Homo sapiens: one gene and its partners. The protein of the gene in region 2 interacts with the protein of the main gene of each other region in a pairwise test. Each region holds a gene or a part of one and is shown on either strand. Other genes may lie near its edges.

Region 1 (7,817 bases), on a different chromosome or scaffold from region 2:
ATTACTATTTGAACAAGGGCCTGCATGCCTGAGTCCCAAGATACAAATCTTTTTTCTACTCTTTCACACTCTGTTGTTCTAACTTCAAAAGCCTGCACCTGTATAGAGTTTATAGCCATTTAAATATGTGGATCTTCCTTGAAATATTCTTTCCATGGTGCCTTTGAGCAGAGCCCAGGCCAAGCTTTCACACTGCATTCTGTTATTTATCTTATTAGAAGGATCAGGAGAAAAAAGTGCTCTAATTACTGCAAAAAGGAAGAAGTCACCTCAGAAACAGTCACATTCTTTTTGGTCTTTTAGTATAAACAATATCCTTTGCATTTCATTAACTTTTACTTGGTGCAACTGTATTATATTTTGCATAAAGATGTGGCATTCTTCAAACACAGAGACAATTTTTCTCACATTTCAAAAGGGATTATAGAGCAAATGCTAGCATATTGAATAATAAAACATTACTTAGTTCCTTATCTGCACAGTTCAAAAGGAAGTTTCAAAATTATCTAGTTCCTATAAATAGTAAGTATCTCAAGGTGACCTTTCTGACGAGAAATGAGGCCTGGCTGTAGTCTGAACCAGTTATCTGACATGTGCCAAATTCTGACTTCATTTCATGATATGTGGATTATAGTTCTGGTGCTTAAAGCCAAAACCAACAAAAACGATGAAACTTTACCTGTGATTCAAGTAACCACAATCTTTGCCTCTTAAGGCAATGTCCCCCAATTCACTATCAACTTTCTCTTTTCGGGTAGCCAAGTGTGAAAATTGAGACGTCAGAGGTAGAGGCTTTTCAGAAAAACAAGGCCCTATACTCCTGGAACTAATTTACTTGTAAAATCAAGAAAGCCTGGGTCTGGAAAGCATTTCTCAGGTAGGACCAGATGTAGGATGTTCTGTAATATACATGCTGAATTTTGAATTGAGTATAACTAATTATCTCTAATGAGTCTGGGACAACCCCTGGAAGGATGAGAGGAGAAAGGGAGCTGATGATGAAGCTAAAGAGTTTACCATGGAAGGACTAGGGCAGCCTACTTAAAATGAATTCCTTCACCCCTTCCAAGCTTAGTGAAACCAGAAGCTCCCAAGGCATCACTTACTCCTTAAAATGTTTAACGGGACATCCTTTTCCAAGTGATCACAGGATTTCAACAACCTGCTGCCCAGCAGTAGAAGGATGCAAGAGTAGAAGGTGGGGGAGGCACCTGAAGGAAGAGAACAGCTATCTCCTCTATGAACATCAATATATATTTTAAAATTTCCAGATAGATGGGCTTTCCTGAAGTTCCTTTGTGGGAGGGAAGAATCCAGTGGTAAAAACTCTCTAAGTACATGGGCATAGATTCAGGAATCTTTAATAGCAAATTCCCTAGCTTATAAGCTCATTTGAAATCCCCAGGAGTCATGGGTGTTTAGTGGATGCCCAATAGGGGAGGACAGAAGGGGCAGCTGGAAGAATTGGGAACATGTTTGCTGAAAGTGAAATGAAGAGAACCAATGGGAAGAGTCTTTCTTGCCCCCTCTTTTGTTGGGATCCTGTATGGCCACTTTGACTTCGACTAGGAGCTGGGCAGAGGGTCACTGATCTCTCCTTCCTTGATCATTGCTCTGTGACTGGTACTATAGTGTTTGAGGCAAAGCTAACTGGTTTCTCAGGTCCCCTAAACAGACAGACAGGCGTCCCCCCAGTACCTGTAGGAGGATCTTGTTCCCATCATGGTCCTCCGTCTGCCAGCGCCCCTCGCTGATGGGGCTGCAAGGGTTGGGCAGGAGAGGCACGAGCTCGCCTATGTCCCTCACTCGGAACTCCAGCACGGAGGAGTCGGTGGGCACCGGGCACTGGTCACAGGGCAGTCTTTTCAGGGAGAACTGGATGTCCACATCCAGGTTGGAAAAAATAGGGAAGATGCAGAAGTCCGCTTTCTTCTGGCTGGGGCTCCTCCGGAGAATCAGCTGGTAGAACCTGAGGCTGTCAGCATAGTTGTCGTAGCGACAGTAGACGGTGAAGCGCACGATTTCCTTGCCGTAGTGCACGGGCCGGATGGCCCAAAGCGGCGTCCCAGGGGCCAGCGTGAAGAAGTCCTGGCTGCAGGGCAGGTAGGGCAGGAACCGGCCGTGCACCTGCTCGGTGTGGTGGTGGCGCCAGGGCGGCTGCTGCAGTGTGCGGTGCAGCTGCAGGATCTGCTCTTCGCCGTACTCCTCCTGCAGGAACAGCACCACAGCCAGCGCTGGCTGAGCGCCCTTGGGGGGCTTCCGCCGCCGCCGGGACGCCCGCCTCTCGGACACCCGGAACAGCGGGAGGTCGGGGTGGATCCACGCCAGGACGTTGTCGATGGCCTCCTGCAGGGGCTGGGACTCCCCTGGGTCTGCGATTATGTGGATGCTGACCAGGAAAGGGTCCTGCGCCTCTTCAACGGAAAGCTCACCTGGGGGCACGCAAAAAACGAATGGATGAATGAATACAATTATGATTATTTCATTAAAGTGTCCAGTGATGACGTGTACAGGCTTGACAGGAAGAGAAGTCAAATTCTAACTGAACTGACTCCATGACCTGTGATTTTCTGATCCCAAGTTTACCTATAAAAACTACTATGCCAGCACCTTAGCAGCCAAAGAGGAAAGGGCTGTTGCTACGTGAATAGTTTCTAAGCTGGACAGGGTGAGGAGAACCTTGGTCCTGTATTTCATCAGGTTGGTTGGTATAGGGAACATTTGACTTTATATTTACGTATCAGACAAATAGAAAGTCAAGTCTAGTGACTTGGAAGGAACAACAGGCCCATTAGAAAAGATGGCATAGCATCTTGTGGACACCATTTAGTATTTCCTGAAATAGCTGCAGGGCCTTGCCCCATACATGTTCCCTACACAAACGCACTCCTCTGGTTTGCTTATTTCATTTGTTTATTTTGTTAACACACACTCATGGGCTCCTTCCTACCTGCCTCACAGGGAGTGAGGCACAAGGCGAATGATGGAGGACAAGAGAGACCTGTGCTTGCCCCCTGGGGCTTACTCTATAGACAGGTCATGCCCTGGCTGTTGATGAGTCCTGCCCACAGTGTCCCCTATTGTGGGGTCCTGGCCAAGATCATGTTGCTGCTGGAGACACAGGGAAGGATGACCCCCAGAGCCAAGCACAGTGTTCTTGCTGTTGGAGCTTACTGGGGCTGAGGTTAGGGTGGAAGGAAAGCAGGGTGAGACCATGACTGCCCATGAAAGGCTACCTTTTGTGTCCCTTGCTGGGCCACATCCACTCAGAAGCCCACACAACTTGAATGGGTCGGTTACCCTCCCTGTGATCTCTGGCGGAACACCTGAAACTGTTGAATTCCAAGCATGAAGTTGACTGTTTAACTTGGCAACAGTTTCCCATGGGGTGACAGTTTTTTGGCCACACTTGGCATATTTCTAAATCATATAACTATACCTGATAAAAGGCTTGCTCTTTTAAAAGATGGTTCTATTTGCATTTATAGAAGTTTTAGGTCTCATTTAAGGGAATTGAGACATCTTTAGGCCAATTGTGATTTAGGGGGCTAGATTCACCTAGAATCTAGATCTGCCTTTACAAAACACATGCCTCACAGTGTCCACTAGGGGTGTCAGGCATACAGTGATCATGTGGTCAATTGTGTTCTATCAATGTGGTGTGCTTTTCAGAATCATAACCTTGATCAAGTCACAGGATGAAAATTTTTTTATGGTAGGTAGACATTCCAAGTGGGCTTACAAGTCCATTTCACCATGTACAGCTGCAATAACATGGTTTTAATTTAATCAGATCAAAACCCGTCTGAATTTTCTTCCCAACCCTATTAAGTGTCTCACTTGAAAACAGTCCAGCTTGCTGTCTTCTCTCTTATTCATGCATTCATTTGCACATCTGTTAAGCAATCAGTTTGTACCAGGCACTGGGGACACAAAGAAGCTGGCACTAATTATGTATGCCCAAGCACTATGGGAGTACATTTACGTATACTCTTGCATGATATGCTCCCTGAGAACTGTGCAGTGCACAACCTGCACAACCATAGGCAGCAGCCCTCTGAAGACCCATAAGCCCATAAGATGAGAACTTTGTGACTGAGTGGGGAAACACAAACATCAAAAAGTAAAATTAAATCTGATATATGCCTAAAAGGAATACAACGGAATAGTAACTTGGGGTGGGGGCTAGATTCTAAAGTCACTGTGAAGCAAAGGTTATCTATAGACACGATTAACACTGAAAGTCTCCTAAATTTCCAATAAAGTACTAACTTGTAACAAGACAAGATGGCCAGATAGATGTTTCTTTAGTTGAACACCACATAAAATAACCATTTTGCTGCAGGGCCATGTATAAGAGAATAGTCTGTTTCTTTAAACACTGAACCCTTACTCATCAAACCCTGCCCTTCACTCTACAAGAGGCTTTTGGGAACCTGAGAGGCTTCTGGAAGTTAAGGATGACTAAGGTAAGAGCGGAGTCAAGTTTCAGCTTTCCACATTCATGGAGTAGAATGGCAAGTGGAATCCTTTAAATTGTCTTCCCTCTTTTTCCTTCCTGCTGGCTGAGCATGTATTCTCAAATTTGTATGAGTTAAATATGAGCATAGAGCAATTCCAACTTACTACATATGACAAAAGAAGGAGGGCTCTGCAGAAGGCTTCCTGGAGGAGGCACCAAATGAACTGGGTCTTGAAGGGTAAAGGCAGAACACATCCTCTTGCTCATGATGCCCTCAAATGCTGAGGAGATTAGGAAGTGTTTACGAAGGTATAGAACTGTGCAAAAAACAAGCACATTTGGAAGGGGGCCGTGGGGAATTCTGGGACATGGCAACAGATGCAGCTGGAAAAATGGATTAGAACCAAGCTGTATGGGGCCTCAGCTCAATTCAGTAGTTGATAAGGGGCAAAGGAAGGTTTTATGAAGGGGTATCAGGATCAAGTTGGGGGAAAGTTGGCTATAGGCAAAATAAGGAGTTAGAAGACTAGTGAAGAGTCCAGACAGGAGATGACAAGGACTTGGCAGAGTAGGAGATTATGTTAGTGGCTTCAGTTCCTTATCCTATTATGTATCCTTACTTTCTGCCATGTGACTGTGTAGCTCCTCCCACTAAATGGGTGGCGTATTTCCCCACCCTTTGATTTAGGATGAGACTATATGCCTAGCTTTGGGCAGGAGAAAGAGACAGCAGTGGCATGTGTTTTGGCTTGCCTCCCTGTGCTCCCAACATTTCCATAAGAACATACTTGGGGGAGCCCACCGGTCCCAGTAAGGGGATGAGACACATGGAACAGACCCACTCTAGCTGAGCCTGCCCTAGATCAGCCAAACTTCACACCCAAAGACGCAGGGCAAGAGCCACTCAGGTGAGCATGGTCTAGATCAGCTGATCCAAGACAAATGGGAAATAATAATGATGGTTGTTTCAAGCCTGAAACTGAGACTGGAGGTGGCTGTTACCCAGCAGTACTTACAGATCCAGGACAGTCAGTCAAGTGGGTAAATAGAAGAGGCATGGATTCACAGGCTATAAAGATGCAAATGGCAGGCCAGGAAGCCCACAGGCCTGGTGGGTGGGGTGTAGGAAAAGTTGGAGAGGAGTATATACCCTGATGTTTCCAGCTTGAACAAGTGATCTGATGTGATGTTTAACTGAAATAGGAAATAGAGGAAGAAGGGCAGATTTGTGGGAAAAGACAGAAAGTTCCACCTTGACCACTTGGCTTGAGATGCCCAAATGACTTCCAGGAGAGATGTCCTTTGGCAACTGGATCTTTGTGTTGCTTAGGTGAAGGGCTGAATTTAAGGATGGGCCAGTTACTTTCAGATCATATTCTCATTTGTATGCAGTTATCTGATAAGCGTGTGCCCCCATATAGACCTGAATCATGAAAATTCATCATGATGGCTAGGAACACAATCAGAATTCAGAGATAATTCTGGCCCTTTTCTTTGCTTGCCCTTTCTGCCTGCCTGGCTTCTTTCGGTTTGGTTGAACATTCATGACACGATCGGCAGAAGTACAGTTGACGCAAAAGTAGTAAAGCTGCGATGAAATTTTCTGCCAGTGAGTAACTCCAGTAAAAGTAGGAGAAAATACCACATCATCTAAATGGATTTCACTTTTCTCTGGTGCCTTGAACTCCCAACAGTGGAGACATGCGACTTTGCTAAGCATCAGTGAATGCTCCATGTAAATGGAAAAGGACAGAAAGGCTTTGAACGAGGGGTCAAGAATTTTACCTGAAAAAAATGACAGATGATTTTAATGAGGGGGGAAAAACACCATGCGAAGTAAAGGAAAGTCTGGGAAAAGAAGCTGCCTGGGCCACCAGGAAGTCCCTTCAAGGTCCTAATCCCACCCCCAGGTGTGCATGTGGCCAGGTACACAGGGTGACATGTTAGCTAACATGGGTGCTTTCTCCATGTTCTACATGTATGAACTCATTTAATCCTTACAACCACCATAGAAAGGGGAGGTGCTATGATTGTCCCCATTTTAGAAACCAGGAAATTGAGGCACAGGAGGTGAAGTAGCCTGCCAAGGTCACACAGAGTATGAGCACTAGCTCCAGTATCCGAGTTCCGTGTGCACCATCAGCCCAGGCTCTGCAGAGAAGTGTGCTCGCCTCTCCACTGTATCCCTTTCACAGCAGAGTGGCCAGCTGCCATTCTCCATCCATGTGTGGCCACGGCAGCTCCCGCCTGGCCCCTCTGCACGGCTCTCCCACCTCATTCTGACTGGCTTCATTCCCAGCCACCAGCCAACAGCTTCATTTCTTGGACACCCACTTACATTTCTTTCCTCTGGCCCCAGGTCTTGGAGGAAGAATAAGCTAGAAACTGCCCTCCCTGTTGGCACATGCCCAGGTCTTCACATCTCAGCAGTGCCCTCGAGGGCAACTCAAACAGGCCAGCACCACAGGTGGGTGCACAAGTGAAAGGAATGCATAACAGTCACCCAAGAAAGCCTATAGCATGGCGTGAGAGGCTTGGGTGTGAAGAGGCCCGGGAGAAGGTGGCTTCTGAGACTCTCCAGTGGAGCTGTCAGGGCGCTCAGCCCTGTGCCATCTCTATCAGTTACACAAAGGTTTCCCTGAGAGCAGTAACAAAGACCATGCTGAAGTCTGCATGGATGAGTGAATGTTTACAGCTCTGCAGAAGGGCGAAATGCCCGGCCTCAGAGCAGGGGGGTGAGCTGAAAGGCATTCCACCAAGTACCAGCTCGCCTGGCAGTTTGGGAGGCAGCCAAGAGCAGGCGAGCCAGGATGACGAAGACCCGACCCCCAGAGCCCCCTCTGCACTGCCTGAACCAGGGACATGTAAGTGGCTAAGACCCTGCCCCAGAAGAGCTAAGGAGAATGAGCAGTGGCATTAGCATGCTCTGGCCATCACTAGCACGTACCCGCTGCACATGACCTGAAAACACAAGCAAAGAACACAGAACGCAGCTTCAAGCTGTCATCAGGTGTTAGAGTTACACCCCCCCCCACCCCACGAGAAACATGCCTCTGTGGAGCTGGATAGGAAACCAAGCATTTGAGGGGAAGGACAGAAAATGTGAATAATTAATTGCCACGAAAAGTCTCTATGCCTCCCTGGAGAAACACAGACGACATGACTGTGGGATGTGCTCTGCCTTTATCATATCTATTACATGTCTTCTCAAAGGACCTAGCGAGCACCTGTTGAATTATGGTAAAACACAGACCAGAACCAAACAGAGCAGTGGCACAGACTGCCCCAAGGCTGGTGGGAGGATGGGAGCTGCTAGCACACCATTAACAAGGCTTTCAAATTAGTTTGTGTTTTC
Region 2 (7,817 bases):
TACGGTTCGCACTCCTATGAGAATCTAATGCAGCTTGCTGATCTGACAGGAGGTGGAGCTCAAGTGGGAATGCTCGCTTGTCCGCCACTTACCTTCTGCCACTTACCTCCTGCTGTGTGGCCCAATTCTTAACAGGCCACAGACCACTTTAGGTCCACAGCCCAGGAACTGGGGACCCCTGTTATATAGCACTTAGGACAATGCCTCTGAGCAGTGCTTCTAACCTACAATGTTTCCCTTCTGGGGGATACATTTAAATACTGTCTAAATTCAAGTCACTTCTGAAAAGGAGATTATTTTGAGATTAAATTTAATCCCTTTTTCAAGCACATAAAATTTCCATAAAATGTAATTTAGCTGGTAATGAGCTGCCAATCTCACTGGTCTGAAAATCTTTTGCCCTTTAAATACATAGAAGCTTTAAGATTTATTTCACATACGTCTTTATAAGAGTAAAATAAACTACTATTTTTAAGCAGTAGTATCTTTCGCATTAAGCAATGAGTGATTCAAAAAGAACTAATTTCAACTGATTATCCCAATTAGTAAATTAAACTTGTCAAGGATCATGACCAATATGTAAAAAAGATGATCACATTAAATTCTTATGGGTGAATCACCAACACAACTTGGCTGGCCTTATTACTGAGCTCCAGGTAATAAAGCAGACTGCAGACCACAAGAAAAAGTTGATCAAAACAATTTGCTTCTGATCCCTAATATGCATTTCCTGTTAATTTTTCTTTCTCGAAATCAGTACTATCACAGCAAAAACAACAGCCAATCTTTACTGAAGGTTAACTATGTTGTCAGATAGTGGTGCTAAGAATTTCATACATATTAACTCATTTAATAAATGCCTAGAAAGATCCTAATAACTTATGAAATTTACTTTTTCTAATTAAAGTGAATTTTTAAAATGTTTCTTGAAAACAAAAGCCATCCCTAGGACAACTCAAGAAATCAGAATTAATGGGAAAATATTTTCAATGAAACATCTGAAGAACATGAATAAAATGCATATACATATTTTAAATGAAATCTAGCAACTTGATTTATATCAGTAGTCCAAAAGAAAAAATAAAATCCATTTTTCCACAAAAAGCACATTCCCCTAATTTGGACTTACCTTGACAAATGGGAAACATAGAATTTTAATTTTAGAAAAAAAAAAAAAAACTAAAGCTGTGATTTTTATCTTTTTTCATATCAATTTAATATATGTGAAAATTAAATAATTTGAATTCTATGTTTACTAAAATTCCTCAAAGCACTACACTCAGAAAGTAAATCATTTCCAACAAAGGAGGTAATATGGCAACACAGCAGAGTAGAAGCATCAGTACCTGAAGAAGAAAGCTAAGGCTCCTGATCAAGCTCTGAGATCTATCTATGAACCTGGGCAGGTAACTTATCTGAGCCCAAATATCTTCATCTATTTCAGTGTAGAATTGGATCAAATAATCCTGGTAGATAAAGGAATGTACTTGTCTACTAGAAGAAAAGCCAACAGGGTAACTTAACCAGTATTCACTATCTCATGAAATAGCTTGTACTCTGGAATCAGTCTCAAATCTTGGCTTCACCAGTTACTAATAAAGTGACCTGAAGATCTAAGTCTCAATTTCTCATCTAAAAATGGAGATGACAGGTCAGGCACAGTGGTTCTTGTAATCTCAGAACTTTGGAAGGCCAAGACAGGACGGTTGCTTGTGCCCAAGATGTTTAAGCAACAACCAAAAGCAACATAGCGAGACCCCATCTCTACAAAAAATTTAAAAATTAGCAGAGTGTGGTGGCATACGCCTGTGGTCCCAGCTACTCCTGAGCCAGGAAGGTTGAGGCTATAGCGAACTGTGATTGTGCCACTGCACTCCAGCCTGAGCAACAGAGAAAGATCCTCTCTCTCTCTCTCTCTCACACACACACACACACACACACACACACACACACACACGAAAGGGCAAGGGGAGAAAACTGTACCTATCTCCTAAGGTAGTCATGAGAATTAAAGAGCTTAGCACCATATCTGGCACTTACCAATTAAGACTGGCTCTTACTATTATAATCATCTCTAGGACATTTCCTAATACTGGCCAAATATTTTGATCATATTGTATCAGCACAAGCACTATCACTAAGAACAAAAAGCAATGATTGTTGAGTTTGGGTTTAAAAGCTTATTGTTTTGAGTGATTTTCCTCAAAAAAAGTAAACATCTATAAATCCTGTAGTATAATTTTGTTTTACTTGTATTATCACAATAATAGAAATTAAATATTCCAAGACATGTCAAAAGAAAAGGTTTAAGATTATGTAAGCACTATTTTCCTCTTTCAATTTATTCACAGACAGTTGTGGAAGGGGGGCAGGGAGGAAAGTCCAGATGCTTTTTAAATTCCCAAATGACTTCTTAATTTAACATGAATTATGAAAGAAACAGTTTCTGAGATTAAAAATGAGACTGCTACTTCAATAGCATATAATGAATTGAACTGTTATAAATTCCATGAATTAGTTACAAATTCCATCACTTCTTTAAAAACCTTCAACATTTATTATACATATTAAATACATTTATTTCATACATATATGTGATAAATTATATTTATTCTTGTTGGAATGGAAGGATGATTGCCAGCTTCAACACCTCCGGGCAAATCCTGATACTAAGTGCTAAGAATACAGATACAAATGGACCAAAGAGATGGCACACAGCCTCTACGAGCCACGGCATGATTATTCTGAGGGTTGTGGGGAGGGAAGAGGGAAGAGGAGAATGTCTCAAAGAGAAGTAAAATATAAGTCAGATTTTCAGTGCTGAATACAAGTCCAGTAGATGGGCAAGGGGAATAGGATAGGACAGTCAGGGAATAAGGGTCTGGCACTAACAAAACTAACAAAGGAGACAGTAACAGAAAAGCAGGCTGGAGAGGCAGACTGTGACAGACCATTAAAAGCCTTCTTTAAAAGAGAAAATGTTGCTTAAAGTTTATCCTGAAGAGATGGTGAGATCTACATTTTAGAAAGTATAGATGTATTGTAATGTAGTCATTTAAAAATGACTCCCAAGGCAATGAGAACTTCACTGGAGACTAGAGGCTGGTTAAACGATTACTGTCTGATCTAATGCCAAGGTCATGCACTGGGAATGAGGGGATGGAGGCATATATACGTATGGAAAACATTCAGAACAGCTTCATTTATATTTATTCACAAACACACAATTATTCCAGTTAATCTTCAGAGCATTCATTTGAAATGGTTCTTATCCCTACTTTACAGATATATAAAAAAAAGAGGCTGAGAGAGATTAATTTTGTCAAATACACAAAAAGTAACAGAGCTAGTATTCAAACTCTGGTGTGTCTGACTCTAACACCTAACTCCACTACATCTGAGATACACTTAGAAGCTGAAATGGATAGGGAGTAGGGAGATGGGAATAAAGGTTAAAGCACAGCAAAGGATCTCTAAGAAGTGAACAATCCTGGGTGCAGTAAACCACCATGGCACGTGTATACCTATGTAACAAACCTGCATGTTCTGCACATGGTATCCCAGAACTTAAAGTTTAAAAAAAAAGAAGTGAACAATCCAAACAGAATAATAATGTTTAATCTCTGAACCCTTCTCTTACTTTCACAAAGACAAAACTGAAGTTTCTCTAAAGCACTGCTATTGAAATGAGCATTTGCTATTGCTTTGTGTTCTATTATTTTCCCCTATATTATTTTTGTTATCATTTCCTCCTCTGTTTTGTTACTATGCCAGAATTTAATACTTATTCAGCTCCTTACAGGACTTGGAAAAAAAAAAACAGCACATAAATCAAAATAAACAGAAACTTGAATTTACTATAGTACCCATATTCCTGTGTATTTTTTTAAAAAGTGTAGATATTTTATACCAAGGAATTAGTGTTAATTTTTGAAAATTTGTAATAATAAAAGCAGGAAATGTAGATTAAAATGAAAAAATAAATAAAGAACAAAGTTTGTAAAAGTACTGCAGTTAACTGCTCTTATCTTTGGGAAATACTGAAATACCTACAGGTGAAATTACACAGGACTTGCAATTTGTTTCAAAATAATATAGAAGTGGGAGAAGTGGATGGATGAGGACTGATCACTGTTGATAGTTACTGGGCTACATGATGGAAACTTTTAGGTTCATTATACTATTGTGTCTACTTACCTTATTTGAAACTCTCCATAATTTATAGTGCTCTCAAAATAAAAAGGAAAGTTCAAAATTTATTCAAATACTGTATAATAAAGGAGGAAAAAACAAAACAAGTATATATATAAAATCATTTTTTCATTAGCTTTCATAATAATTTTAAAGTTGGCTTCCCAAACTAGCATTTTAGTTATGACAAAAAAAATCACATTTATCTTTTAAGAAGCATTCTATGTTTATAAATGCAAATGTAATTAATAGCCCAAGGGCAAAATTACTCAAATGGTCAATCAGGCTACACAATTTTCCCATTTTTATTATAATAGATCACAAATGAATTCCCACTAATTCCACAATACTTTTTTTTTTTTTTTTTTGAGATGCAGTCTCGCTCTGTCGCCCAGGCTGGAGTGCAGTGGCACAATCTCGGCTCACTGCAACATCTGTCTCCTGAATAGCTGGGATTACAGGCGCCTGCCACCACACCCAGCTAATTTTTTGTATTTTTAGTAGAGATGGGGTTTTGCCATGTTGACCAGGCTTGTCTCGAACTCCTGACCTCAAGTAACTGTCTGCCTCAACCTCCCAAGTGCTGGGACTACAGGTGTGAGCCACCATGCCCGGCCTAATTCCACAACACTTCAATGTACAACCTGACATGTGTAGAGATGTTAGTTATTGCAGTGTGTTATGTTGACAGTTTTCAGAAAATGTTCTGAACTTATGAGCTAATATTATATTTAATTACAAATAATTATTTGTAATAATACAATGAGCTAATATTTAATTACAAATATTTATTTGTAATTAAATATTTATTTAAATTAACAGAACACCGCATGTTCTCACTCATAAGTGGGAGATGAACAATGAGAACACACGGACACAGGGAGGGGAATATCACACACCAGGGCCTGTGGGGGAGTGGCGGGCTAGGGGAGGGATAGCATTAGGAGAAATACCTAAGGTAGATGATGGGTTGACCGGTGCAGCAAACCACCATGGCACGTGTATACCTATGTAACAAACCTGCACATTCTGCACATGTATCCCAGAACTTAAAAGTATAATTTTTTAAAAAAATCATTTTCCAAATTTCTTTTTCTCAATAATGGAAGCTTCATTTTACATATTCTCTTAAGAATATATGCCAACTAAACATTCAACAGGTGCTGAAATACGCACTGACTAAATAAATAAACAAGAGTCTTTAGAGAAGGAATGAATAGCAAAGCGGTAAAGAGTGGAGACAGTTATTCAGGCTACATTTTTGCTGAAAAAGATAGAAATGAAACAGTAAATACTTTGCGAGAGTATCAAAACTGGAGAAATTGAAGTTTGAGAAAACCTGAGCATTTTAACAGACTAACTTCAGAAAACCTTCCTTCTAGTTCAGATTCTGTCACTGACAAGCTGTGTGAACTGACGCAAGTCATTTAATCTCTCTAAGGTTCAGTTTTGACATCTATAATGGTAGTGATATTATCTCCCCTGCCTACATTTGAGAAAATCAAATGGCATATCAATGTAAAAATGTATACATTGTAAAGCACAACATAAATGTATGATTTTATAAAGATCTAAGAAAGAAAAAAATGTAATGGGGGAAATAGCAAAAGCATACTGAGGGGTTTGTCTTACAAATCAGAAGGTATCTTTATTTATCTTAGGTAAAAGGAAAGAAAGGGAAAACTAGTCTTTATGAGGCATGTAGTTCAAATATGATTCTTTTCCCCACAGGGAATTGATACAAATTTGCTTATTGTTTTTTCAAACTTATTTTGGTTTTTCTTTTATACTTTATCCTTATCTGACAACCAGATGCTCCCAAACAAATATTCAATACTATTACTTTTATCTGGGCATATCAAATTACAATTCACTTATTTAAGTGGTTCTAAGCTATCATCTATATGCTCCTTTATGCTCATAGGGCATTCTCACATTCTTGAATAGTTTCTTCATACTAAGCTGTCAATTCATATACTTATTTGTGTATGTATCCATACCCCTCAGAGGAATTTCATCAACTGCCATTATGATTATATTTACAATCCTACTGTTAACGACAAGCATCAAATCTTTCATGAACTTGAACTATTTGAATAATTTTCATTCTTTTTCCTCTAAGTAATATCAGTTTACGGCTATAGTTATCTAATTTCGTGTTGCCCTATATTCTAAGATAAATCAGATTACTTTTTCCACTTTTCTCTAACCATGACTATGTACGATGTAAGCTTATAAAACTACCTCATTTAGTGGTAAGTTGAAAAGGAAAGCAGAAGGGAAAATAGAGATAGCAAGTTAATGCTCCCAGTTGTATAAATATCTTCCTCTTCCTTCCTTTGTCCCTTCATTTCTCAATGTTCATTTCAATTTCTACTGCTAGAGCAGCTTCAAAACATCCTAACATTCTTCAACTGATCATCCATCACCAAACACAGCACAGTACTTACCTGGCCCGATGTTAAAGCTATAAAATGAGGTAAGCCCTACTCTCGAAGCACTTGTAGACTAGAGGAAGAGACCACCTTGCCAATAAACATGTTTCTAGGGCCCTAGAAACAATTACAAATACAACACAAATATCAAAGTTCATAAATACCAAAAAAGAGGTACTCAGTATTATAAAAGCATAAAATTTTTAAAAAGAGTACCATCTGGTACAACTAAGGATAGTAGCATAAAAAAGGAGAAACAAGCTAGAAAGCAGTTTACAAAAGCTCAGATATTTTGTTTTTAGGATATCAAATGCGTAGTAACCAATTTACTATCCTTTGATGAACTGCATCTTAATCAGAATTATATCGGAAAAAAGTTTAGTGTGAAAAAGCGTACTCCCTTGGAATATCTTCAAAGCTTTCCCTCATTACCTCAATGCACAAATATCTCTACCCACTATCCATCTGTCCTTCCTCTCCACTACTCAACTATCCTAGCACTTTGTCTTAGTTGACATTCATTAAAATATGTAAAGTGCGTTCTACATTTTGAAGAACTTATAAAAGATATGGGAATGATTATAAGGCCCTACCTTCCATATTCCTTAAGAACAGTTTCCTTTAACCCCTACTGTGACTTGCAGAGTAGATGCTCAATGAGTATTTGATTTAAAAAAATCTCTGGTGACACAATGAGAATTACATATTACATTAACATTACGTATCTCATAAAAGCTAAATTACAAAGTTCTTCAGCATTATAAGCTACACATAAAGAAGTGATAATGTAGTGATTATGAGCAAACAATTCTTTAGCATTACCACTTATACATGAAGAAATGACAGAGTGTAGTGGTTAAGAGCACAGACATGGAAGACAAACTGTCTGACATCTAATCTAGACCTGTCACTTAATTAACTATGTGACGTTGAGCAAACTACATAAGGTCTCAGGGTCTCAATTTTCTCAACTACAAAATAGGGATAAAGTATTATCTCCTCGCTCACTCTGAGAGTAAATGAGTATAAAGCTTACACCAGGACTTCGCTTGATAAGCACTAGACTTAAAAGTAACTGTAGTAGCAATGCTGGTATCACCGTCTTCAGAAAACTTGGATATTTTTAAACCAGAAATACAAATGGTAACACTTGTCATCTGTGTGCCTCCTTATAGTTACAAAGCTCTTTAA
Region 3 (8,329 bases), on a different chromosome or scaffold from region 2:
CTTTCATTTCTTACAACCAATGACATAAATGCTAGACAACTGGTCAAAGTTGGAACGTTTTCTTCAGCCAAGCTGAACTAACCTAACTGCAGTTCAAAACTGAAGTTTGGTGCCTCATCGGCACCATGTTCTAACAAACTAAGCTAAAAACAATGGCTTATGGACATACTGAGAATGCGGTTTCTTATCCTTCCCCATGTCTCAGAAGGGAACAAAGTGACTATTTAAAGCCAAGAAAAATATAAAGAAATAAAAACCATCTACAACAGACCTAGACAAAAAAACACCCTCAATTAGGGCAGAATGTAAGACTCCCATTTCCCAGTCCATACCCTTTTAGGTACACCTGTTGGGGCACAACATGCTCTTATTTTTATTAAAATTTGAAGTTCACTTAAGTTCACATATCCATTCTTTTGAACAGCTCTAATAACAGCTATTATTCACAAGTGCAAACACTGTCAAAGTACAAGACACTGTGCTAGATATACATTATGTCAAATTCTCAAAGTAGGCTTTGTCCAGAAATACTAAATACGGAAACACAATGAAAAGTGACTTGTCCAGAGCGACACCGCTAGTGAGAGGCAGAGATAGAATCCAACCCAGGTCTGCTTGGTTCCAAGGCACATGCTCTTTCCACTACACAGCACAGCACTTTCAAAGAATCTTAAAACTTTGCATGTGAAAGGAACCCTATCATAATAATGGCTGCCTTTTTAATGAAAATCTACAATGTGCCAGGTGCTTTACATACCTTACCTCATCTTCTTACAATAACCAATCAAGGGAAGTGATGGTATTACCGTTTATGGATAAGGAAATAAAAGAAGTCAATTGTCAAAGGCCACAGGCTAATAAATAACTAACCTGCGATTTAAACTGATGTCTGCTTAATTCAAGCCAAGAAAAATACTAAGATCAACTGAAAAACATCTACAAAAGACCCAGACAAAAATCACACAGGCAATCAGGTTAAGTAATAAATATCTAACCTGAGATTTAAACTGAGGTCTGTTTAATTTCAAGTTGATACTCTTTTGATCATGAGCTCAAAGAAATCAGAATGACCTCTGTGTACTCAATACTTCAATGGATGTCACTTCTAGAGGAAACTGCAATGGGCTAAGTATGGCTACAAGAAACTTACAGTGCCACCAGACTCACAGGATTTCAGGACTGGAAAATATTAGAGATCTGAGGGATGTACTCAGTTGCATTATTTTGCAGATGGGAAAACTGAAGCTCAGAGAGATTGCAAAACATTCATGTAAAAGGAGGATTTGAAGCAATGGAGACCAGCGCAAGGGCATTCCAGGTGAAGGGTATATTCTGAAGAAAAGCATAGAGGTAAAAATGATCATGCTTGAACTGTTAGCAATACAGGTAAAATGTACTATATAAGAAAGGAAAAAAATGAGGAATGCTGTCAAGTTATATGACCAAAGGACATTTCTTTTTAAAAAACAAAAATCTTAAAAAGGTTTTTTAGACAATTTTTCCATTTTAATAGAATACCTATCCCTGCTGTCACAGTTATTCCATCCAACCTTATCTAATACTTGATATGAATCTCTGTGCTGTGGCCACATTCTCTTTCGATTTTGTTTGCTGTTAGCACTGTGTCTGTACTAAAGCACGAGAATATGGATTTATACATTTTTTTCTAACCAATGTCTTCTCACTCAAAACTTATTTTGCTTTGTCTTTTAATTATTTTTCACTCTGAGTTGCGTACTGAAAGCCTAATGGCAAGAGTCTTAAAATCTCTGCATAAAACTTAAAGTTTACAGTAATTTTTTACTCCAAAGAGTACTAACTGAAACACAATAACTCAAAGAATACAGCCTCAGATATTTTATTACAAAATGTAGTACTACCATTAATTAGCATGATATAAAGAAATACTGGTCACAGACCAAAAACTGAGTTCGACAGTCTGAGTTTCTATGAAGAAAAGTTTAATAAATTATTCTCAAGGTAACAGTTTCAGAAGAAAAAGTTTTTAAACATTTTAAATATTTAAGAAGTTTTATTTCCTGGTAACAACTGTTAAAAATAATTTACAAATGTAATTTATTTACGCTGGTTGATAACAGAAAAAAATATATAAATTATTATAAAACTTTCTGAAGTCAAAATTGCTTTATTTACTAGGTTCAGGCATCATACGTCCAAAAATGTGAGGCTCCAAATTCAGGCGCAGCGGAGAGTGTGTTAATGAAGTTAGTGCTGGTATACTGACACCCTAGAGAAAAACCAGGTTTTCAGTTTATGTATCAGGTGCATGCAAAGGGCATTAAAAAAAAAGTGCTCTACAACGTTGGTCAGAAATGACTACATTACTTCTACTGGTATGAAAAACTGCAAACCCATCTCAGCCCCTATCAGACTGGCAGACACTAGTCCTGAAGCAACTGGGCCTAATCCAAAACTTCGGCGCAGCAGGTCACAGAGGAGGCGCCTGGGAAAGAGGAGATATCAAGTGAAAGTGAAGCAGGGAGAAGCCAGAAGCCGCCCCAGGCAGGTCAGAAAAGACTGTGGGGCTGGGAGGGAGGATGACAGGGTGTGGGGAGTGGGTGGGAGGAGGGGGTGTTATCAGAGGGAGAGCACTAAATGACACAAAGCAAAGGCAATCCTTAAAATGCCAATTCACCCTGGGAGACAGGGTGTGCACAGTGGAAAAGCAGGGTTTGGGTCCTGAACCCAGGAAAACCATTTCACAGACAAGTACACCGAGGTATGGGTTTCAAATACGGTCCTGCAACAAGGGAGCAGTACAGTTACGAGTAGACTGTGAGCCCTTGCAGGGTATAATTCAACCTGGCATTCCCCGCCCGCCCCAGCAGTGCCTAGCACTTGGCACAACCAGGAACTATCTCTGAATGAATGTCCCACGTCTTGAAACTCTAGGCTTCTTCCCAGACACCTGGGCTTCTGGCCTTAATACGCTAGGGTCCAGGACGGGAGAAACCCAGGCTGAGCGGGTCCGGAGAAGATGGGGCCTTGGGGTCCGAGTCCAACCACTGGCCCTCCGCCCGTCCACGGGCACTCACCCGGATGCCCTTCACCACGGTGATGTTCTCATTCTCGTCCGCCTCGAAGGTGACCCGGCGGGTGCTGGTGGTCCCACCCATGATTCCGGTTCCTGCCCCAGCGGAGACCTAGCGGGGAACCACGAGCACTTCGGGGCCCCCGCACCCACACGCGCGTGGAAGGGCCTGGATTCTTTTCCCGCACAGCGGGAGCAAGGCCACGACCCCCAGAAGCAAGGAGAAGGCGCCGGTCCTGAGCTCCCGCCTCCTCCGGTCACGCGCCACAACAAAAACGCCTCAGGTTGGTCGGCGATGCGAACTGCCCGCCTCTGTTCGGCGAGGGCGCCCGGATTGGTTCACCCGACCCGGATGCTATGGCAACAGGTGGTGTTTGATAGCTTTCCGCGGAGTCCCTGGGTGTAGTGGGAACTGTGGTCTCGATCTGGCGCGGTGGGTGATGGGACATTCTCTCCCCGCGCCTGAGCGCGCTAAGGGAGCACGGCATTCTGGGAGTTGTGGTTTTGACTCCCCAGAGACGCCTAACTGGGCAACTTTTTGAAGACATAATTCTAGAAATTTAGGCCACTAAGTTCAGAGACACAATCTTTCTCTCAAAGGGACTCACAGTTTAATGAAAAAGATGCATGATACTAATGAAGCCATTCCTAGTGTTCTATACACAAATTCCTGGCTCAAAACTTAGCGTTTCATTACAGTCGTAGGGTAGCTTAATGAAGACTACTTCTGAGAAATGCCTCGTTAGGTGACCCTGTGATATCTGTGGTTGTGCAAACATCATAGAGTGTACTTACACAAACCCAGATGGTGTAGCCTACTACACACCTGGGCTACTTGGTGTAACCTATTGCTCCCAGGCTGCAAAGATGTACAGCATGTCACTGTACTAAATACTGTAGGCAATTGTAACACAGTGGTATTTGTGTGTACAAATATATGTAAACATAGAAAAGCTACAGCAAAAACAGTGTAAAAGTGATTGCTTTGGCAACACATCTAGGACAATTTGAACAATACAGAGATTAGCACAGCCCCTGAGCAAGGTTGACACATGAATTTCTGAAGCATTCCATTAAAAAAAAAATCAAAGATAAAAAATGGTATGCTTCTATAGGGCACTTACCATGAATGGAGCTTACAGGACTGGAAGTTGCCCTGAGTGAGTCAGTGAGTGAGTGGGGAGTTGAATGTGAAGGCCTGGGACGCAACTATGCAGTACTGTACCTTTTATCAACACTGTGCACTTAGGCAACACTAAATTTATTTTCATATATTTTCATTCTTCAAGAATAAATTGACCTTAGCTTACTGTAACTTTTTAAACTTATAAACTTCTTTTTTTGTGACTTTTTGACTCTTTAATAACACTTAGCTTAAAACACAAACACACTATATAGCTGTACAAAAATATTTCTTTCTTTATATACTTAGTCTATAAGCTTTTTCTATTTTTGAAATTATTTACTTTTTACTTTTTAAACATTTTTGTTAAAAATTAAGACAAACACACACACATTAGCCTAGACCTACACGGGGTCAGGATCATCAATATCACTGTCTTCCACCTTCACATCTTGTCCCACTGAAAGGTCTTCAGAGGCAATAACACGTATGGAGCTATCTCCTATGATAACAGCACCTTCTGTAACACCTCCTGAAGGACCTGCCTGAGGCTGTTTTACAGTTAACTTTTTTATATAGGTAGAAAGAATGCACTTTAACCTAAAGATAAAAAGCATAGTATAGTAAATACTAGGAGACAGGAATTTTCCAGCTCCATTATAATCTTATGATTCCACTGCCAGAAATGAGGTTCTTCTTTGACTGAAACACTGTTATGCAGTACATGAATGGTGGCATTTTAGTAGTAGCCATAAAATAAAAAAATAAAAAACGTAAACGTGTGTTTGGTCCATGTCTCTTGTCTCATGAACTAGTATCTGTATTTTTTTCTTTTTGTAAAGTAAAATTTTAAGTACTATGGTTTTCAAACCTGTCTATGAGAAAATACATTTCTTCATAGAATAAATTATTTGCACCAAGTATGTAGAGAATTTACTTTCCACTTTTGTGTCTCCTTCTACTACTAGTTCAGTTACATAAGTTAGGCCATAATAGGGTTAGGCAGAGAAAAGTTAAGTGATTGCCAAAGATGGCATAAATTAGTGGAGGAATTAAAACTACATCAGAAAAGTTGAGATGATCTATTGTGGAAAGTTCCTATTAATAGTTCAACATTTCACCTCTACGAGACCAGTACATAGTTATTAGGTTATTCATCTACATATTTCTTTTTTGCTAAACACACTGTTACACATAAGTTTAGCCATATGACCTTAGTTTTACAGAGGCAGATGATTCTCAATAGAAATTAGGTTAATGATGGTACTATTCTTCAATTAATCCCTCTCAACATTAAAAGCAGCAGGCCACAACACACCATGGCATTCTCTTATGCCAAAGGCATCTACAATGCAGTCGCATTTTTGAGCTTCAATTATGTGCTGATCTATTACTGTATGAATCCAATTATGTGCTGATCTATTACTGTATGTATCTTTTATTTTTCTGAGACAGAGTCTCGCTCTGTCGCCAGGCTGGAGTTCAGTGGCGCAATCTTGGCTCACTGCAACCTCCGCCTCCCAGGTTCAAGCAATTCTCCTGCCTCAGCCTCCGGAGTAGCTGGGACTACAGGTGCGTGTCACCACACCCAGCTAATTTTTTTGTATTTTTAGTAGAGATGGGGTTTCACCATGTTGGCCAGGATGGTCTCCATCTCCTGACCTCATGATCCTCCCACCTCAGCCTCCCAAAGTGCTGGGATTATAGGCGTGAGCCACCGCTCCCAACCTTACTGTATGAATCTTTAGAGCAGAAACTATGTCTTTTTAATCTCTATATCCCTGGTCAGTAGCAGAGTGTTGATTACATCTCATCATTATATTCTTTTAAAATTGTACTATGTTACTTTGCAGTTATGAGACTACGTGCTACTTTGTACTTGTTCTCAAGTTTCCTTCTTTTTTCTTTTTTTTTTTTTGAGAGAGAGAGGGTCTTGCTTTGTTGCCTAGGCTAGAATGCAGTGGCCCAATCACGACTCACTGCAGCCCCAACCTCCCAGGTTCAAGCAATCCCTCCCAGTTCAGCCTCCCCAGTAGCTGTGACTACAGGTGTGTGCCACCACACCTAGCTGTGGTCTCACTATGCTGCCCAGGCTGGTCTCAAACTCCTGAGCTCAAGCAACCTTTCTGCCTTAGCCTCCCAAAGTGCTGGGATTACAGGCATGAGCCACCATGCCCAGCCTAACTCTTTCTTCTACTGGGAACTAAAGCTCCAAGGAATTATGACTTTCATTTTTTGGGGACCCTCCCCTCCACAAACACACTCTCACTTATTACCCCAATATATAGGGCATATCGGAGGTTCTATATAACACACATGCTCAACAAGCACTTACGAAAATAACCAAGTACAAAGAAAGCGTTCCTTGGAGAGAATAGAGAGATGAAGAAACCACTAGTTGTCTTAAATATATATATATATATCTCCAGTTAGAATATTAAGTAGAGTTCTTTCAACCAAATATATTAAAGATGATGAATGCCAAGCATGAGAAGGTAGTGGAGTGCCTTCATGTTTTATGATTCAAACACATATAAGTGGTCTAATCAAACAGACAATCCAAAAATGTTTTAGACATCCTAATGCATTTTAACCAACATTACAAAGATGCCTTCTGAGTTTAAAAAAAATTCAATGTATTCTTTAAAACAAAATGCCTTCTCTAACAATACTGTTCTATCCATGTCAATTTCTAGGCCAGTCATGCCTATACAATCCCTTCTTGAGCTACCCAGAACTTGTGGCCTCCCTTTCTTTCTGGCTACAGCTTATTAATAGTCATCTAATCCAAAGGCAGCATTTACTAGCCAGACACCTATGAGCTAGAATGCAAAGCTTTGCCCTAAGAAAAATAATAGCTAATACTTCAGCTACTCAGATTCTCCATGTTTTTCTCCGTTTTCTGTATCTCTGTATTCACTTTCTCAAATTTAAACTTGAAAATTCAGAGCATACAAAAAGATAGCAAGAAGAGAAGTTATAACACTGAGTCTGTACCATGAAGAATCATGGCAAACTAAAGATAGGTGGAATAAGAAACTGCAAGAAAAATAAAAGGCATCCAGACTGGAAAGGAAGAAGTAAAACTACCTCTATTCGAAGATAACATGATCTTACAAATAGAAAAATCTTACAGAATCCACTGCAAAACTAATTAGAACTAATAAAAAAACTCAGCAAGTTTGCAGGATACAAGATCAACATATAAAAATCAATTGTAGCCGGGCGCTGTGGCTCACACCTGTAATCTCAGCACTTTGGGAGGCCAAGTCGGGCAGATCACCTGAGGTCAGGAGTTTGAGACCAGCCTGGCCAACATAGTGAAACCCCGCCTCTACTAAAAATACAAGAATTAGCCAGGCGTGGTGGTGGGCACCTGTAATCCCAGCTACTCAGAAGGCTGAGGCAGGAAAATCGCTTGAACATGGCGGGCGGAGGTTGCAGTGAGCGGAGATCGCGTCACTGCACTCCAGCCCCGGAGGGAGAGTGAGACTCCATCACACACACACACACAAAAACTGTATTTCTATACACTGGCAATTAACAAGCCAAAAATGAAATGAGGAGAGCAATTCCACTTATAATAGTATGAAAAACAATTCAAATGTTCATTAATTGATGAATGGAAAAACAAAATGTAATATATCCAGAAAATGGAATATTAATGGGGAATAAAAAGGAAGAAAGTACTGATATATACTACAATATGGATGAACCTCAAAGACATTATGCCAAGTGAAAGAAGCCAGACACAAAAGGCGGTTGAAATGTTCAGAATAGGCAAGTCCATGGAAAACAAAAGAAGATTAGGCTTGGAGAGGGTAGGAGGAGGTGAGATGTAGAGTAACTTCTAATTGTTACATAGTTTCTTAACTTCTAATTGGTACATAGTTTCTTTTGGAGGAGTGATAAAAATGCCTAAAATTAGATTGTGATGGTTGCACAATGCTATAAGTATGCTGAAATTTATTGAAATGTACACTTCAAATGGATGAACTTTATGACATGTAAATTACATATTAATAACACCGTTAAAAGTATTAGCTAGGCATAGTGGTATGCACATATAGTCCTATTTATTCTGGAAGCTGACGTGGGAAGATCACTTGAACCCAGGACTTGGAGGCCACCGTGAGCTATAAATGCGCCCCTGC
Region 4 (7,817 bases), on a different chromosome or scaffold from region 2:
ACAAAATCATTTTTTTTATACACTTTGTTTCACTTGCCATAGCTTTGGTTCTTTGATGACTATGCAAATGAAGTCTCTTAATGACCCCTAGCTTGTTAAGGTGTTACTTGGGTGGTACCAGGCCCTCATTTCAGGGCGGGGGGGTGGAGGGTGGCCAGTCCTCTTGGCTTTGTTCTGTATCTGAGCTGCACCTGGGGATTGTTAGCAGCTTACAGATATTATCCCCTCACACAGAATGAAGTGGCCAACCACGAATTGGGTGCAAGCCTCTTTAGTGGAGCTGAGAAAAATACTGCCTCATGTTTCAGGCAGTTGGCAGGGGTGAGGCATGTTACTCTCTTTTTGTGTAAGATTGTTAGCCAAGTCTGAAGCCCCTCCAGCTTCACAGATCCTTTTCATTTTGTCTAGTTTGGAGGAATTTTACACTGAAGAGCAAGGAGGTGGTAGACAGCTGTCATAATCAATGACCTGTCAACACCAAGACACTCCACTGTCTTATCAAAGTAGGGTTCTGCACAGGCTGTGGGGTTGATCTGAGCTTGCTGGTGGTCACTGTGGTCTCTGGGGTCTGTCCTGATGCTCTCTGTTTGTACAGAGATTCTGATTTTTTTTTGGAGGCAGGTGTTAGCTGCAATTGTCTAGATTCACTTCTTATTCCTCTGTACCTTGGTCTTTTAGGAGAATGATTGGTGTTATTATCTAGTTAATATTTGAGAGCCCAGACTGTGCGAAAGGCTGGCAGTGCATAATAAACACCATTTATCAAAATTCAGGGAAATTGCCAGAGTTCATTAATGTTTTAATAATATTTGGTATTAGCATAATGTCTCTGCCAGCTCTTTTGTTATCTTCATTCCCTGGTGAGGTTCGATAGAGACTGGTTTGTGTCCCCATTGAACAGATGCAGAAAAGGGGGTATGCAGATGCTGGAGAAGGCAGGAAAGAAACAAGCCGTCACCTAACCTACAGACCAAGTGGTCGGTACCATGGCATGATTTTTACGGTAGTTAATCATTTACTAATCATCTTCTCAGGGCCAGGAACTTCACATAGACTTTTGAGGAGGTATTGCTTTCCCATTACATAGATGAAGATATTGAAATTTAGTGGGGTGAAGAAAGTGGATATCCAGGGTCACAAAGCTAATAGATGGTAGAGATGCTACTGAAACTCAGGTCAGCCTTACTCTAAAACATGTTCCTCTTCTCCTACTTGAGACTATTAAGAATAGATGCATAAAATCCAGAGGAAAGGCTTTGTTTTAAAAAATCACTTCTTTCAGGATTTTGTTTCGATTTTAGCTATAAGTTTTAGCGTAATATAAGTAGATTTCTGGAACAGTCTGAGTTCAAGTATTCTATAATAAGATCTCCTATTTGAATTTTTGATTGAGAAAATCATAGTAATTATAATAAAATGTTAAAATCTATAGTTTCATTCCCAGTCTGCCTCTTGTTGGCTTTGTGGTCTTAGTATTTTCTCTCTCTTTTTTTGAGACAGGATCTTGCTCCGTTGCCCAGCCTGGAGTGCAATAGTATGATCATGGCTCACCGCAGCCTCAAAGTCCTAGGCGTAAGCTATCTTCCTGTCTCAGCCTCCCTAGTGGCTAGGACTAGAGATGTGTACCACCGTGCCCAGCTAATTTTTTATTTTTTAAAATTTTTGTGTAGATGGAGTCTCACTATGTTGCCCAGGCTGGTCTCAAAATCCTGGCCTCAAGTGATCCTTCTGGCTTGGCCTCCCAAAGTGCTGGTATTACAGGCATGAGCCACCATGCCTGGCCAGTTTTTTCATTTATTAAACATGGATAACAGTAAGCATTGTTTTTCAGAACTGTTATGTCAGAATGTGAAATTACTTTGCTAACTAAAAAAGAATATATACGTGAGTTTATTATTTAAATAAATGTTTGTTTATTTATTTATTTGAGACAGGGTCTCGCTCTGTCACCTAGGCTAGAGTGCAGTGGTACAGTCTCAGCTCACTGCAACCTCTACTTCCTGGGCTCCAAGTGATCCTCCCACCCCAGCCTCCCAAGTAGCTAGGAGTGCAGGCGTGTAACACCACGCCTGGCTAGTTTTTTGTATTTTTGGTAGAGACAGGGTTTCGCCATGTTGCCCAGGCTGGTCTCACACCCCTGAGTTCAAGCAATCCTCCTGCTTTGACCTCCCAGAGTGCTGGGATAAAAATATACTTTCTTAGAAGATCCAGTGAACTTAAATTGGAATTATTTCTGCAGCTTGACATCTGAAAGAACTATGCAGTACAATTAGGGTAGCCCAGGAGGATTTTGGCTCATACCATGTGCTGACCATTGTGCTAGCTACTTTGCCTAAGTCCATTAGCTCATGTAATCTTTTTTCCACAACTTTGTAAGCATAAGTATCATGCCTATTTTGGAAGTGAAATAGGTGTTGTTACCCTTTTTAAAGATGAAATGGTGAGGCTCAAAGAAAGAAGTCAAGAACTTAGGCCAAGATCATTCAGAGTTGGAGACTGAATCCAGTTATTCCTGACTCAGAAGCTCATGTTCCTTTTACTGTAGTAGCAATCAGTTTCCATCACTTTTGGGTGAGACATACTATACTCAGTAGCCTGCCTAGTCTGTAGGAGCAAAGATAATTTCTTTTTTTCTTTTTTCTTTTTTTTTTGAGATACAGTTTTGCCCTTGTTGCCCAGGCTGGAGTGCAGTGGCATGATCTTGGCTCACTGCAACCTCTGCCTCCTGGGTTCAAGTGATTCTCCTGCCTCAGCCTCCCGAGTAGCTGGGATTACAGGCGCCCGCTACCACACCTGGCCAATTTTTGTATTTTTAGTAGAGATGGGGTTTCACCATGTTGTTGGCCAAGGCTGGTCTAGAACTCCTGACCTCAGGTGATCCACCCACCTCGGCCTCCCAAAGTGCTGGGATTACAGGCGTAAGCCACCATGCCCCGCCTGAGATAATTTCTTTTTGTCTTCCTGTCTCTGTCCCTCTTTCTCTCCCTCTGTTTTTTTCACGCATTTGACAAATACTTAATGAATGTAATAGTGTTTGCCAATCAGCGTGCAGGGTTCTGAAGATAAAATGGTGAACAAAAACTTTGAGAAATTCATAAGGGCCTTCAGGGACCCCTCCCCTGTTTCCTTTGCCCACCAACTCTAGCAGGATATTTTGCTGGCTGTTTCTCCTTTCAGGCCAATAAGTGCCATGTGGCCATTTCAAAGATGTAAATGCTTGGTGTGGTGCTCCTGGACCTACCATATTTTTAGGCACTTTCTACATCTCCAGAGTGGGTAATTTTGAAGCCCTACCTTTCCAGTGTTTGATTGCTACTTTTCTGTTAATGAATTCCCCCAGCAGGATTTACCATGGAAATTTATGGTGCGTTGGTGTTTTATGGGCCTCCATGTGCTTGGAAAGTTCCCGAGAGTTGTATTCACTATGTGCTGCATCTGTAGAGTGCACAGGATCATCTCGGAAGTTTGTTCTATCTCTGAGAACATTATGTATCCAGGGCAGGGGATCTCTCCAAACATTCATTTTTGTGCTAGTTTGGATTGGTTTCAATTCCCCCTCCATGGTTCTGGGCAGTGGCTGCCCTTCGTCCTTGAGAGAAGAGGCCTAGAACTGTCGACAGTCCTGGGTCTTCCTGTCATTCCTTGTCATGCCACTCATTGGATAATACATTGCTCACAGTTAGGCTGAGCCCCTTTTTAATTCACAGAAATATTAGATTCTAACAATTCAAAATCTCTGGTCCCATTCAGACCTATTGAATCCGAATTCCCTAGAGATCCCCCAACAAGCTGCTCAGCATGTCAACATCCTGTCCTGTGTTAGGCTTGATGTTCTGCATTCTCTGTTCTAGGCACAGTGAGCATGATCCCAGTTGACTTTTGAGACTAGAACCAAGCTGCTGAGCCTAATGAGCAGATAATGTCTGTCTGCTCCTGGAAAGTAATAGTGGAGTTCTTCCACCTGGGACAGAGACAAAAAGGCATAGTGAGTGAGACAAGGGTGTTTACTATGTCACAGGTTTTAATAGGACTTTACTGTATCATTTAATCATCACCATTACACTTTGAGGTTAAAAAAAAAAAACTGTGGTGAACCCTAGAATTAGAAAAATATAGGAATTCATCCAAGTTTACCAGCAAGTGAGTGGCATAGGTGGGACTTAACCTGGGTCAGGATGAATACAAAACCCTGGCTTTTAACAAGGACAATATTCTGCACTCAGGACCAAGAGACCCAGATTTTACCTCTGAATCTCCAGTTATTAACATTTGCTGTGTGACGTTGGGCAAGTCACTCAGACTTTAAGCCTCAGTTTCTAAATATATAAGTTGGGCTTAATCATTATATGTACTTCATGTGTTCAGGTGCATTCAATTCTGAATCTGAAAGTTTTTATATAGTAAGAGAAAAGGGAATTTCTGAGTTCTTGTACCAGCTCTGTTTTGTACTATGTGGTATGTGTTTTACCCTAAGTCTCCTAACCTATGTTGGGCCTAATTCTGCCCGTTTTCCAATGATAGAAAATGCAAAGGAAAAAGTAAAATCACTCCTAAACTTGAATCACCATTAATATTTTGATGCACATTTCTTCTAAACATCTGTGTTATACATATGCTTATACCCAGACATATGTGTACATTTACATAACAGGGATGGTATGGGATCCATGCTCTTTTATTAGGAGTAAATTTATCAATATGCTGTCCTCTACATTTTAAAGAGGAGCTATAAGTTGAAACTTGTAGAATGATGTTTTCCTAGCTTCTTTCATTCATCTCTTTTTATTCCAAAGAAGATGCATTTCTAGAACTTAGAGCACATTCTGTTATTTATGTATATATGTATGAATGACAGGTCTCACTCTGTTGCCCAGGCTGGAGTGCAATGATGCCATCACGGCTCACTGTAGCCTTGACCTCTTGGGCTCAAGCGATCCTCCTACCTCAGCATCCCAAGTACCTGGGACCACAGGAGAGCACAGCCATGCCTAGTTAATTTTTAAATTTTTTTTTTTTTTTTTTTTTTGTAGAGATGGTGGTCTTGTTGCCCAGGCTGGTCTTGAACTCTTGGGCTCAAGTGATTCTCCCACCTTGGCCTCCCAAAGTGTTGGGATTACAGGCATGAGCTACCACGCCCCACCTCTATTCTATTATTTAATAATTGGGAGTAATGAATTCTCACATTGGTGACCTCCGAGGATTTTACCTACCTTATTTGCCATCTTCTGAGGATTTTACCTACCTTTCCATGCCGCCTCCTGTCTCTGCATGTTCTACATTGTCATGTAACATACACCCCAATTTCTCACTTTCTTTCTTTGCTTAGGCTCTTAGGCTCTTTTCTCTCTCTCTCTCTCTTTCTTTTTTTTTTTTTTTTTTTTTTTTTTTGAGACAGAGTCTTGCTCTGTCACTCAGGCTGGAGAGCAGTGGCCGATCTCAATCTTGGCTCACTGCAACCTCCGCTTCCCGGGTTCCAGTGATTCTCCTGCCTCAGCCTCTGGAGTAGCTGGGATTACAGGTGCGTGCCACCATGCCTAGCTAATTTTTTGTATTTTTAGTAGAGATGGGGTTTCGCCATGTTGGCCAGGCTGGTCTTGAACTCCTGACCTCGAGTGATGCACCCACCTCGGCCTTCCAAAGTGCTGGGATTACAGGCGTGAGCCACCGTGTCTGGCCGAGGCTCTTCATCAGAGTTCCCTAACCTGGGTCCATGGAAACAGCATGGAACCTGTGAACTTGAGTGGGGAAAAAAGGACATCTTTATTTGTATTAACCTCTAACTTAAATATAGCATTTTCTTTCATTATAAATATAGATGGGAAACCATAGTGTTATTAGTGGTTCGTATGTTTTTGTTGCCAATAGAAATCCCAGGCATTTTTATTTCACATTACAGTTGTTGCAGATATCTCAAAAAATGTTTACTGCTGCTTTGAAATTATGGTGGATATTAGACTTGCTGCTAGATTTTATTATTTAAGGCACTAATAATCACATAGGGTACTCTATCACAAATTTACTTTAAAAAGGCATTTATTATTATTTTTTTATTTTTTATTTTTTTTTTTTGAGACAGAGTCTCGCTCTGTCACCCAGGCTGGAGTGCAGTGGTGCGATCTCGGCTCACTGCAAGCTCCGCCTCCCGGGTTCACACCATTCTCCTGCCTCAGCCTCCCGAGTAGCTGGGACTACAGGCGCCCGCCACCATGCTTGGCTAATTTTTTTGTATTTTTAGTAGAGACTGGGTTTCACTGTGTTGGCCAGGATGGTCTCGATCTCCCGACCTCGTGATCTGCCTGCCTTGGCCTCCCAAAGTGCTGGGATTACAGGCGTGAGCCACCGTGCCCGGCCGCATTTTGTATTTTAATACTGATTTTCTTGGAAATCCTGTGTGATGTTATCATATTCACTTAAATATGCTATTCTCTGCAGGGATCTATAGGCTTCTACAGTCTGTCGAGAGGATCCATGTCACAGAAACAATTAAATGTCCCAGGTTCTACAGATGACCTTCTGACACCTTATGTCCGCTTTATTTTTTTCTCCCAGCTCAAATGCCACTTGACTCATGAAGCCTTCCTATATGTCTTTGAGAAGAAGAAAATTTGGCCCGGCGTGGTGGCTCATGCCTGTAATCCCAGCACTTTGGGAGGCCGAGGAGGGCGGATCACGAGGTCAGGAGATCGAGACCATCCTGGCCAACACGGTGAAACCTCGTCTCTACTAAAAAAAAAATACGAAACATTAGCTGGGCGTGGTGGTGGGCGTCTGTCATCCCAGCTGCTGTAGTCTCAGCTACTTGGGAGGCTGAGGCAGGAGAATGGCGTGAACCCAGGAGGCGGAGCTTGCAGTGAGCCTAGATCGCGTCACTGTACTCCAGCCTGGGCGACAGAGGGAGACTCTGTCTCAAAAAAAAAAAAAAAAAGAAGAAAATTTACCTTTCCTGTGTTTCCTCCTAATACCTGGTCCCTTTTGTGGCCCTTAGCCTGTTCTTTCCCATGCTTTAAAGAATACCTGGCTTATTTATCTTTGCAGCACCCAGGGGGTCATGCACATAGTAGGTGCTCACTAAGTGTGATGTGACTTGAGTCACTCTTTAAAAGAGCTCTTCCCAGTGAAGCTTTTTATTGCAGTCTCTGAGAAATTAGCACTTTCTAACCTTGTCTCTTTATGATTTTTAAAAATCCATTGAGTTATACTTTATCATTTTCTGGAGTCCAGAAAATTTTGATCTTATCTCCTTATGTGGCAGAGGGATGTAGGGCAAGTTTTTCTACATTCCTTAAGACCTATCCTAGGGCAATATAAGAAATGTCCATAGTGATTGCTGTAGCTTGTTGACTGGGAACAGCAAACTGCAACTCATGACTCATAGGGATGTTCCCTTCCTTGTGGACCCCGGTGTTTCTTCACAGGCATGTGAGGGTACTTCCGGACCTCTGGCATGCCCATACTCAGGGCTTTTCAGAATGCACAGTGGGCACACGTTATCTTTCTCATTATGGCGTTTAGTGTGCTTATCAGTCATCCTCCAAGTGCCTCCACTTGGATGGTTAATCTGGAACGCAAGTCGTAGGAATTCTTTATTATTAGAAACTACTGTTATTTGCGATCAATACTAATTTATCTTTGCACAATGCTTTATAGATGACAATAAATATTCACATTTGGTATGGTATTATCCTTAGGTCAGGCCTTTGAGAAAGGTTGTATAGGAAGTATTAATCCCCATTTCTAGATGGGAGTACTGAGACTCTGGGAGGTGATGTGACTGATTCGTAGGTCACAGAATCGGTTGGAGATCAAGACTCCACCCA

The links.
Region 1: the proteins of RAB3IP (region 2) and FAM124A interact in binary tests that used the Homo sapiens proteins (3 or more experiments, as listed by UniProt).
Region 3: the proteins of RAB3IP (region 2) and CHCHD3 interact in binary tests that used the Homo sapiens proteins (3 or more experiments, as listed by UniProt).
Region 4: the proteins of RAB3IP (region 2) and MB21D2 interact in binary tests that used the Homo sapiens proteins (3 or more experiments, as listed by UniProt).

Annotation. Positions count from the first base shown.
Region 1 is NC_000013.11:51,246,083-51,253,899, reverse strand, and holds part of FAM124A (protein FAM124A), read right to left. Parts: intron 2,433-7,817; coding exon 1,699-2,432; coding exon of another isoform or gene 1,627-1,698; exon of another isoform or gene 286-1,626; intron 1-285.
Region 2 is NC_000012.12:69,741,434-69,749,250, reverse strand, and holds part of RAB3IP (rab-3A-interacting protein isoform alpha 1), read right to left. Parts: intron 1-7,817. UniProt on the Homo sapiens protein: Guanine nucleotide exchange factor (GEF) which may activate RAB8A and RAB8B. Promotes the exchange of GDP to GTP, converting inactive GDP-bound Rab proteins into their active GTP-bound form.
Region 3 is NC_000007.14:133,078,801-133,087,129, forward strand, and holds the start of CHCHD3 (MICOS complex subunit MIC19), read right to left. Parts: upstream 3,291-8,329; 5' UTR 3,138-3,290; coding exon 3,057-3,137; intron 1-3,056. UniProt on the Homo sapiens protein: Component of the MICOS complex, a large protein complex of the mitochondrial inner membrane that plays crucial roles in the maintenance of crista junctions, inner membrane architecture, and formation of contact sites to the outer membrane.
Region 4 is NC_000003.12:192,907,508-192,915,324, reverse strand, and holds part of MB21D2 (nucleotidyltransferase MB21D2), read left to right. Parts: intron 1-7,817. UniProt on the Homo sapiens protein: Probable nucleotidyltransferase that catalyzes the formation of cyclic dinucleotide second messenger in response to some unknown stimulus.